Linked DNA regions of Homo sapiens. The protein of the gene in region 3 interacts with the protein of the main gene of each other region in a biochemical or structural test. Each region holds a gene or a part of one and is shown on either strand. Other genes may lie near its edges. The genes, in order: ABL1, ESR2 and STAT5A.

Region 1 (3,648 bases), on a different chromosome or scaffold from region 3:
TGCTGGCAACACATTGGACCTTGGAACAAAGGCAAACACTAGGCTCCTGGCAAAGCCAGCTTTGGGCATGCATCCAGGGCTAAATTCAGCCAGGCCTAGACTCTGGACCAGTGGAGCAGCTAATCCCCGGAGTAAGGAATATTTCATTTTTGAACCATTTTGGGCTAAGTGGAATATTAAATGAAGTTCATAAAAGGCGTCCTTCCTAATAATCACAGTCCCCTCTGAAAGAGAGTACTCATTGTTCCTCCGGGGCCAGCGCCCAGCAGTAATGGCCTCTTCCTGGGAGCCGCTGGCATTGCTTTTACGCAAACTCATGGGAACAACCAGTACATGGCTTTTGTTTTTTAGTGTGTGTGTCTTTTTTTCCTGCTTTCTCTTTATTATCTTTTCATTCTCCACTTAACTTGCTGTCCTCTGATTCAGGGATGTTTCCACAATTGTCAGAATTGTGTATGTGGAGGTCTAAATTAAGTGTCTTTGCTGTTTTAAACCCTGAAGTGTTTTGACCTTCAAATGTGCCACAATTATCTTGGTCTTCAAATTCTTTGCTGGTGGAAATGGCTTCCCAGCAAAGCGACGGCCTGTGCAGGACAGAGCCTGATGGGCTTTGCTGGCGTCTTTTATACGAGATGTTCTCCACACCACCACTGTGACCTTTCCTACCCAATTAGCTCAAGTATGAAACCTCTACATGAGATTTCATAGCAAGGAATAAGGGTAGCATGTGTGAAATGCTGGCGGCTCCTTGTAAGACAGATTTTCTATGCTCCATGAGAGCCTGATCCAGATACTCCTGGCTTTCAGGAAAGTGAATCCTCTGATGCTGCAAATTGAGATTGCTTGACTTCTGGTTTGCCTGGCACGGCCGGGTCCGTTCCTTCTTCATTCAAGCGAACTTAAAATGCTTTATCAAAATCCTCTTAGGCACAACTCTTCTGTATTTAATTTCACTCTTGTTGCTGACGATCAGGCTATCTCACGCAGCCATCACCTCAAGCTGCTGCCCCCTCTCATTCCGCTCTTCCCGTTTGCCTTGTGATTTCATGGTTAATGTTCATGAACCAAAGATTAGACTCCTACCTCCCTGGGAGAATCAGGAAGTGAGAGGAAGCAGATTATACAGGAGAGAGTTTTTTAGGATACATTTGGGTACACCTCAGGAAGAAAGAGGGAAGTAGGAAACACAGTTTGGGTAAAGAATGCCATGGGCTTTGTTTTATTTTGTCCCATCAAGTCTGAATAGGACAAGTGGAGATGCACTCTGATAGAAGTTTCTTGCAATCAAGGACTGGGCTCAGTGTTTGTCTCCGTGCCTGGCATAGAGTAGCAATAACTGCACTTACTATTCTCGACACTTCAATCAAAGCACTTAGCATATTAATTAATTACACTCACAGCAACCCTAAGAGGTAGGTGCCATTATTATCGTCTTCATTTTACGGATGAGGTAACTGAGTCCCAGGGTAATTAACTTGCTCCAGGTCATGAGGCCAGGGAGCCCGCTCCCAGCACCAGCCTCTCCCCATGTTGGGATCTCAGGGTGTGTTTGCTGAGAGGCTGGCACTGTGTTAATTGCCGTGGGCATTAATACAAACTTCCAGGGCATTGGACTCAATCTTTCCATTGTCAGCATTGCACCTTTGCTCAGCAGTGGTGGATTTGTGAAGTGGAAGGTTGGCCAGGAGCTCTCATGGGTGAACATTTTCCTTTCTTAGAGATCTTGCTGCCCGAAACTGCCTGGTAGGGGAGAACCACTTGGTGAAGGTAGCTGATTTTGGCCTGAGCAGGTTGATGACAGGGGACACCTACACAGCCCATGCTGGAGCCAAGTTCCCCATCAAATGGACTGCACCCGAGAGCCTGGCCTACAACAAGTTCTCCATCAAGTCCGACGTCTGGGGTAAGGGCTGCTGCTGCACTGAAGTGGTCCTTCCTGACTACAGGAGGGTTTTTTTCTGCCTCTTTCTTGCTCTTCCCTTTCTTTTCTTCCTTTCTTTTTGTTTTTTTGAGACGGAGTCTCACTCTGTCACCCAGGCTGGAGTGCAGTGGTGCAATCTTGGCTCATTGCAGCCTCTCCCTCCCGGGTTCAAGCGATTCTCCTGTCTCAGCATCTTGAGTAGCTGGGATTATAGGCACCCGCCACCACACCCAGCTAATTTTTGGTATTTTTAGTAGAGATGGGGTTTCACCATGTTGGCCAGGCTGGTCTAGAACTCCTGACCTCAGGTGATCTGCCTGCCTTGGCCTCCCAAAGTGCTGGGATTACAGGTGTGAGCCACTGTGCACAGCCACCCTTTTTTTTTTTTTTTTAACTGTGTATTTGGCCTGAGGTCCAAATATGGTGCACAGTGTATCTGCTGATCTGTTAAGTCTCCTCTATAAGCCCCCTCTCCATGTCTTTATTTCCCTTGCTGTTTATTGAAGAAACCATCCTTAGAGTTTCGTACGTTCTGGGTTTTGCTCATTGTCTCCCATGGTGTGATTTAATATGTTCCTCTGACTTCAGTATTCCTAGTAATGGGTGGCTGGATCTGGAACGGCCTCATCACATTCAGGTTTGACTGTTTCTCTTTTAGTAAGAGTGGATCAGGGGAGATGGTGTGCCCTTCCATCAGTAGATACAAAATGCTTCATTTATTTCCTTCCTTCCTTTCCTCCCCTCTCCCTCCCCTCCTCTCTTCTCCTTCTCCTTCCGACGGAGTTTCGCTCTTGTTGCCCAGGCTGGAGTGCAGTGGCACGATCTTGGCTCACTGCAACCTCTGCCTTCTGGTTTCAAGCGATTCTCCTGCCTCAGCCTCCTGAGTAGCTGGGATTATAGGCGCATGCCACCACCCCCGGCTAATTTTTGTATTTTTAGTAGAGACGGGGTTTTACCATGTTGGCCAGGATGGTCTCCAACTCCTGACTTCGTGATCCACCCACCTCGGCCTCCCAAAGTGCTGGGATTACAGGCGTGAGCCACCACGCCTGGCCCCAAAATGCTTGATTTGCTATCGTTTTTTTGTGGGGGTTTTTTTTTGAGTAATTTTTGGCAGTTACTGATATACAGTGCCTAGATCCAATAGTTTGCTAGGTATTGCCAGGTAGGAATTCTCTAATTCTGTCATTCCTGTTAAGTTACTAGTGGAAACTTGTATGAGGAGAAACAGTTCCTCATCTGTGTGGTTACTCAGTGGTACAGTTCATGTAGGAAGAGCAGGGTCAATTCTTGCTTCTTTGTTTTTATTTACCAGTTTTTAAAATAACAAATTACTTTTTCTTTTTTTTTTTTGGAGCCAGAGTCTTGCTTTTTCTGGGGTACAAAGTACAGGCTGGAGTTCAGTAGCATGATCTCGGCTCACTGCAACCTCCGCCTACCAGATTCAAGCAATTCTTCTGCCTCAGCCTCCCAAGTAGCTGGGATTACAGGTGCCTGCCACCACGCCTGGCTAAATTTTTTTGTATTTTTAGTAAAGATGGGGTTTCACCATGTTGCCCAGGCTGGCCTTGAACTTCTGAGCTCAGGCAGTCCACCTGCCTTGGCCTCCCAAAGTGCTGGGATTACAGGCGTGAGCCACCATGCCCTGCCACAAGTTGGTTTCTTTTTTTTTTTTTTTTTTTTTTTGAGACAGTCTCACTCTGTCGCCCAGGCTGGAGTGCAGTGGC
Region 2 (3,648 bases), on a different chromosome or scaffold from region 3:
GTATTTTAAATATGTAACTTACCTTGCATACCCAGTTACAGTGGTAGTAACTAGGATATGCAGAGTGGCAAGTTTATGAGGAGCTAGCAAACTGGATAGTTGGCCTTCCTAGCTGGAATTATGACAGGTCTTGAAAATGAAGGGCTTTTAGTGGAGAATCTTTGTGTGGGTGTACTTGAGAGAGGGCAGGAGAGTTAGGGTGACCTAGAAAGATAGATTGCTGGACTTGTATATGTTTCCTCAAAGCCAGACTGCAGCATTTTGTTAGTAAATTGTTGTGTGTTCTACTGTCAAACCCAGGCCTGGAAGGGGAGTTGAGTGCATTCAGCCTAACTTCTGGATTGGCTGTGTCATCTTGAATCCCTTCACTCGGAATTCTCTCTGACCCTGTCCCAAATGAATATTTGAATTTGGTCCAGTTCCTACAGAGCATGGTCTGTGGCTGTTGTTGGTGTTAGGGAAGAGCAGAAACTTGCTGTTGAGAGAGAAGACACTTGAGAAGACTGATGAACTCTCTCCCACCCCTGCCTTCGAGGCTTGGTCCTCCTACCCTATTCAAACCCTTGAAACTCTTTCCTATCCAACTAAATAAGCGCCAATTGGTTACTAGGAGAATTAGCTTTTCCTCATTTTAGAAGGAAACAGGGTTTCCTTATGTACATGTTCTTAAGAATTACATGCAAATCAGTTATTAATGATGAGTTCTCTGGTGATTTTGGAGTGTTTTATCTTCCTAATATTAAATTAATTGAGGGCCTTAATATTTTGTTTTGAAAGAATATATTTAAAAAGGCTGGGTGTGGTGGCTCACGCCTGTAATCTCAGCACTTTGGGAGGCCTAGGTGGCTGGATCACTTGAGGGCAGGAGTTCAAGACCAGCCTGGCCAAATAATGAAACCTTGTCTCTGTTAAGAATACAAAAAATTAGCTGGCCATGGTGGCTCAAGCCTGTAGTCCCAGCTACTCAGGAGGCTGAGGCATGAGAATTGCTTGAACCTGGGAGGCCGAGTTTACAGTGAGCCGCGATCATGCCACTGCATTCCAGCCTGGGCAACAAAGCAAAACTCTATCTCTAAATAAATAAATAAATAAATAAATAAGAATACATTTAAAGATAATAATTGGCCAGGTGTGGTGGTTCATGCCTGTGATCACAGCACTTTGGGAGGCCGAGGTGGGAGGATTGCTTGAGGCAAGGAGTTCAAGATCAATCTGGGCAACACAGTGAGACCCTATCTCTACAAAAATTTAAAAATCAGCTGGGCATGATGGTGCATGCCTTTAGTCCCAGCTACTTGGGGGGCTGAGTTTGGAGGATCCCTTGAGCCCAGGAGATCAAGGCTGCAGTAGGCCATGATCTTGCCACTACACTCTAGCCTGAGTTACAGAGCTAGAGTATAACCCCCACCCCCCAAAAAAGCTAATAATTGTCAAACAGCTACTTATGCACATCAAGGATGCTTGTTGCTTAAGAAATCTTTTTAAATCTTTTCCATGAAATTCCTTCTAGTTGCTGCTTTGTGAGCGTGAATTTTTTACTTCTGCAGGACACACAAATGTGGAGCATTTGAACTGAATGCTTGGGAAAGTGTGATGGGCAGGTGGAAGAAGAATAGGGATGAGGACTTATCCTCTATTCTTATCCTCCTAGACTTATCCTCCTAGTCTGCAAGCTTGAGAATATGGCATCAGGAATATGTGGCATTTTGTCCACACACACAGTGTTGGCAGGCTACCAGCAGCCCAGCTATCTGGACTAGGGGTGATGGATTTCTGTGGACAGAAGTCAAAAAGTAAAATTAGGAGGCAAAAATCTTCAGGGTGGCCATAAAGACATTGTAACTTGTCTGGAAATTCCAACCAACACTAAATGTGTATCCAGTGATATACCAATAGACTGGCTTCATCTTCTTGGATGTGTAATAATACCTTACAGAATGCTTTCTTTTTTTTTTTCTTTTTCTTTTTCTTTATTTTTTTTGAAATGAAGTTTTGCTCTTGTTGCCCAGGCTGGAGTGTAATGGCACAATCTCAGCTCACTGCAACCTCCACCTCCCAGGTTCAAGCGATTGTCCTGCCTCATCCTCCCGAGTAGCTGGGATTACAGGCATGTGCCACCATGCCCGGCTAATTTTGTATTTTTAGTAGAGACGGGGTTTCTCCATGTTGGTTAGGCTGGTCTCAAACTCCCGACCTCAGGTGATCTGCCCACCTTGGCCTCCCAAAGTGCTGGGGTTACAGGCGTGAGCCACTGCGCCCGGCCTCAGAATCCTTTCACAGACATCATCTCATTTCACCCTCAGAGCACCGTGAAAAGGTACAGCACCAAATAGGTACCTGATTCTACTGAAGAAGATGTGGCAGCTCAGGGAGTTTGTGGATTTGTCTAAGATTGCCTGGCTTTCAGGCAGAGCTGGGGCTAGAATGAATGTTCTGCTCTATCCATTGATAGAATATACATAAGAACAGGCTTGATGGTGGCTGACCTTTTTTTTTTTTTTTTTTTTGAGACAGAGTTTTGCTCTTGTCACCTAGGTTGGAGTGCAGTGGCGTGATCTCGGCTCACCGCAACCTCCACCTCCTGGGTTCAAGCGATTCTCCTGCCTCAGCCTTCTGAGTAGCTGGGTTTACAGGCAAGCGCTGCCACACCCGGCTAATTTTGTATTTTTAGTAGAGACTGGGTTTCTCCATGTTGGCCAGGCTGGTCCCGAACTCCTGATTTCAGGTGATCTGCCCACCTTGGCCTCTCAAAGTGCTGGGATTACAGGCATGAGCCACCCGCGCCCGGGTGACTGATTTCTTATTAACTAGATTTACAGGTGCTTTGATAAAAACCAGTCTAGTCTTGGCTGGCACGGTGGCTCATGCCTGTAATCCCAGCACTTTGGGAGCCCAAGGCGGGCGGGTCACGAGGTCAAGAGATCAAGACCATCCTGGCTAACATGGTGAAACCCCGTCTCTACTAAAAAATAGAAAAAATTAGCTGGGCATGGTGGCGGGCACCTGTAGTCCCAGCTACTTGAGAGGCTGAGGCAGGAGAATGGCTGAACCCGGGAGGTGGAGCTTGCAGTGAGCCAAGATTGCACCACTGCACTCCAGCCTGGGCAACAGAGCAAGACTCCATCTCAAAAAAAAAAAAAAAAAAGTGTAGTCTTTTTGGAGTGTTTTTCTGCCATTTCTAGGGCCAAACTTTTTCTTGTCCATGAATCATTGTCAAAATTGGGAATTTTAAATACTACTTTTTTCTTTTAATTCAAAAGCCATAGTATGTTTCCCAGCCAGTACATTAGAACACCATGCACGATCCCATGTGTACAAAAAGCTTTCTGGCTGAATTCAGATGTGACCTGAGAGGGCCAAATACAGGGGTGTGTGCTGGGAGAGAGAGAGAGGTCTCTGGACAGAAAACAAAGCCTGTTCACCACCCAGGATATGGACCAACTATTTTAGGTTATGGTGACTAAAGAAAATTGACATGCAAATAAATGAATAATTCTTAGAATCAGGATGTCTGGGTACTGGTTCTTTGGTTGGCCAGGTGAAATTCCATGCCAGGCCCAACAATTAAACTCTTTAGAGACAATTTTTTCCTGTTGTACCAGAACATTGTACTGAGGCCATGTTTGAACATTCAATCGATGTGTTGGG
Region 3 (3,648 bases):
TCATACCTCACTGTAGTATCAAATTCCTAGGCTCAAATGATCCTACCACCTCAGCTTCCCGAGTAGCTGGGACTACAAGTGCGTGCACCACCATGCCCAGCTAATTTTAAAACTTTTTGTAGCGATGAGGGTCTCCCTATATTGTCCAACTCAAACTTTTGGGCTCAAGTGATCCTCCGACCGTGGCCTCCCAAAGTGCTGGGATTACAGGGGTAAGCCACGGCATCTAGCCTAGCACCAAGCTTGTTGCAGGGACAGGGAAGGCATCTGAGTAGGAGGAAGGCAGTGTACCATCTGTCCCAGATTTAATGATGGTTTGACATGATTGTTTGAATTTACAATGGTGTGAAGCAATACACTTTCAGGAGAAAGTGGTGTGATAGTCTCTCACAATGCTGGGCAGTGGCAGTGAGCCTCAGCTCTCCGGCAGCCACACCATCCCCAGGGTAAAGAACGGATACTCGGCTGGGTGTGGTGGCTCACGCCTATCAACTCAGCACTTTGGGAGGCTGAGGTGGGAAGACTGCATGAGTCCAGGAGTTCGAGACCAGCCTGGGCAACACGGTGAACTAGGGGACAAGACATAGCTGGATGCAAGGACAAAGCGGGGGGTGCAGGTCCCCCACACCTAAGCTTGGGCAGGGGAAGGGAGAGGCACAATTACTTGCGGGTGTTCTCATTTTTAAGCAGAGACTTGGCCTGCTGCTCACTGATGATGGTGGCCTTCACCTGGGGGGGATTCATGTGCACGTTCAGCTTCCCGCCCACCAGCAGGCGTACGGTGGCTGCAAACTTGGTCTGGGTCTTCAGGACCTGAGGAGGCTGCTTCTCAATGATGAATGTGCTGCATGGGACACAGGGACAGACACACGATGAGGGGTTGGCGCAGGGGAAAGGGCTCTCAGTCCCTCTGTGGTGGGGGTGGGGCTGCCTCCCATGGGGCTCAGGAGGTGATGAGCTCGGGCACAACCTCTGTTCCCGGGGAAGCTGTGAGAGTCCAGGGAGAGGATGGAGAGGGGAGTGAGATAACACAGCAGCTGGCATGGGCTGCGGCCCAGGGTATCTCTTGCAGTGTCCACAGGAGAAACTGGGCAAGGGCGGCACCTAGCAGCCACAGCAACTGGAGATGGAGTTGGGAGGGATGAGAGGCAGGAAGTGGATCTGCTGGTCTGGAAGGCACCTGCAGCTCCCCCCACGCAGGCAGGAGCTGCCCCAAGCTCCTGGGCATGGCAAACAGGCAGCAGTCACCTGGTCACCAGGGCTGAGATAATGTCCGTGATGGTGGCGTTGACCTCGGCCAGCATCTCCTCCACTGGGCCGGGGATGGGCAGCTGCTGGCAGAGGTGCTCAGCCCTGCGGATCTGCTGCCGGTTCTGCCAGATGATCTCGGCCAACTTCTCACACCTGCACGAGAGCCCCAAGGCCAACAGGAGGACAATGGCTTCTCCTCACAGACGCCAGGCCCCAAGACACAGCTCCCGTTCCCCCAGGAAGGCTCTGTGCTTTCGCCACACTTCCCACCCATGGGAAGAGCAGAGCTCCCTGCCTCCCAGAATTAGAGACGTACACAGGAGGGGCGACCCTGACTAGGCCCAAACAGCCCAAGCATCACCCCACACACCCGAGCCCCATCCCACCCCCAGGACAGCAGCCCCCTTCCTGGGGGAGGTGCACAGGATGGGGACCAAAGTCTGATTGAGGAACCAGGCTCCCTGGAGAAACAAGAGCTGTCCCAGGATGGAGGGGGCCTGCTGCAGGAGCCAGCACAGGACGCAGAAGCAGCCGGGGTCCCCACCAGCCCCTCCTGCCCTGCCCGCTGGCCGCCCCACACCATTACCAGGACTGTAGCACGTCCAGGCTGCCCTCGGGGGGCCCGCCGTTCCCGGCCAGCTGCTGCCGCCGCTTCCACTGGATCAGCTCGTCATCCAGGATGATGGTCTGCTGCTTCCGCAGCAGCTGCAGGGTCTTCTGGTGCTTCTCGGCCAGCTCCTGAGGGAAGGGAGGAGAGCAGCCCCTTCTGGGCTCCCAGAGAACACCGCAGGGCCTCGCTGGGAAATGGCAGGGCAGGGCCCAGGCCGTTCCCTCTCCCCAAGCTGCTCTGCCTCGCAAGGCCCCCAGGAAAAAAGGCCTCCTGCCCTCCCAGGTTCTGCTCTCATGCTGGTCCCAGCCCTCCCTCGGGTCCCCAGAGACTGACTTCATGGCACCCACGCCCAGGAGAGGCCCAGGACCCCACTCACCACGCGGTACTGCTGCAGTGTCTGTGCCTCACGCTGCAACCAGGCCTCCAGAGACACCTGCTTCTGCTGGAGGGCCGTCTCCCGGCTCAGACGCTCCTGGGGGCTCAGCTGGGCCAGCTGGGCAAACTGAGCTAGAGGAGAGAAGAGGAAACCATGACCATCACCTCCTAGTGTCCAACAGGAGGCCTAGAGAAGCCCACTCACCTGTTCTGGAGCGAGACCCTCCCAGGCTCAGACACTGCATCAAGAGCAAGTCGGGGTTCCTGACAGCCAGGGGGGCCAAGATGAATGGCGCCTCAGGAGGCGCCTCTGGGCCCTGCTCACCAGCCTCCTGACTCTGAGCCGTCCCCTCTGGGGGCACACGGGTGCTGGGGCAGCTGGGGAGGAGGCCTGCCTGCCTCCTGCCCGCCTGCCTCACAGGGCTGCCAGCCCTCTTCTCGCGTCCCAGCATGGGTCCAGGCTGTCTGGGGTGTAAGTGTGCCCATGCCCTTGACTGCAGGTGAACCTGGGCAAATCGCTTTCCTTTCCTGTGCCTCAGCTTCCCCACGTGTAAAACGGGAGATTCTCAGCACCTGCCTCAGTGGGGTGCTTGAAGATTAAATACATGAGGACATGGAAGATGCCAGAAAGCTGCCTGACATGGGTGAGCTCTGTGTGAGGTTCGTGCTTCTTGGTTAACGGGGAACAGGACAGAGAGAAGAGGTGACAGAGACAAGCAGCTGCTCGGCCCCATCCCTCCCGCAGCAAGGCCTCTTCAGGGAACCCCAGCCCCGGCGGCTCTGTCTCGTCCCTGAGCACAGCAGTCCCTCCTCAGGGGAGGATGAGATTCTTGAGGGGCTGGAAGGGGCCCAGCATGTTTGTCCAGGTGGGCTCACTGTGAGCCCAGCCGACCAACCAGGGGAGACAGACAGATAGACAGACCGCAGAGGGAGAGCGTGTCCAGGGCCACTGGGGATGCAGAGCCACCAAGATTCTCTCAGGAAAGGGAGGCCGAAGGGAGGCGGCTTCCCTCCACACCATCTGTGAGGAGTCTCATTGATGGCGGGACAGGGAATAAGTCAGGCCTCACTAGCTTTTAAAAAGTATCCATCATGGGGCTGGGCGCAGTGGCTCACGCCTGTAATCCCAGCACTTTGGGAGACTGAGGCGGGCAGATCACGAGGTCAGGTGATCGAGACCATCCTGGCTAGAGACCATCCTGGCTAACACAGTGAAACCCCATCTCTACTAAAAACACAAAAAATTAGCCGGGCATGGTGGCGGGTGCCTGTAGTTCCAGCTACTAGGGAGGCTGAGGCAGGAGAATGGCGTGAACCCAGAAGGTGGAGCTTGCAGTGAGCCGAGATTGGGCCACTGCACTCCAGCCTGGGCGACAGAGCTAGACTCTGTCTAAAAAAAAAAAAAAAAAAGT

Evidence for each region.
Region 1: of the proteins of STAT5A (region 3) and ABL1, one has a biochemical effect on the other in vitro, tested with the Homo sapiens proteins (one study listed by IntAct).
Region 2: the proteins of STAT5A (region 3) and ESR2 form a complex in vitro, tested with the Homo sapiens proteins (one study listed by BioGRID).

The regions. Positions count from the first base shown.
Region 1 is NC_000009.12:130,873,150-130,876,797, forward strand, and holds part of ABL1 (tyrosine-protein kinase ABL1), read left to right. Parts: intron 1-1,718; coding exon 1,719-1,903; intron 1,904-3,648. UniProt on the Homo sapiens protein: Non-receptor tyrosine-protein kinase that plays a role in many key processes linked to cell growth and survival such as cytoskeleton remodeling in response to extracellular stimuli, cell motility and adhesion, receptor endocytosis, autophagy, DNA damage response and apoptosis.
Region 2 is NC_000014.9:64,287,846-64,291,493, reverse strand, and holds part of ESR2 (estrogen receptor beta), read left to right. Parts: intron 1-3,648.
Region 3 is NC_000017.11:42,298,471-42,302,118, reverse strand, and holds part of STAT5A (signal transducer and activator of transcription 5A), read right to left. Parts: intron 2,369-3,648; coding exon 2,238-2,368; intron 1,990-2,237; coding exon 1,838-1,989; intron 1,405-1,837; coding exon 1,249-1,404; intron 845-1,248; coding exon 665-844; intron 1-664. UniProt on the Homo sapiens protein: Carries out a dual function: signal transduction and activation of transcription. Mediates cellular responses to the cytokine KITLG/SCF and other growth factors. Mediates cellular responses to ERBB4.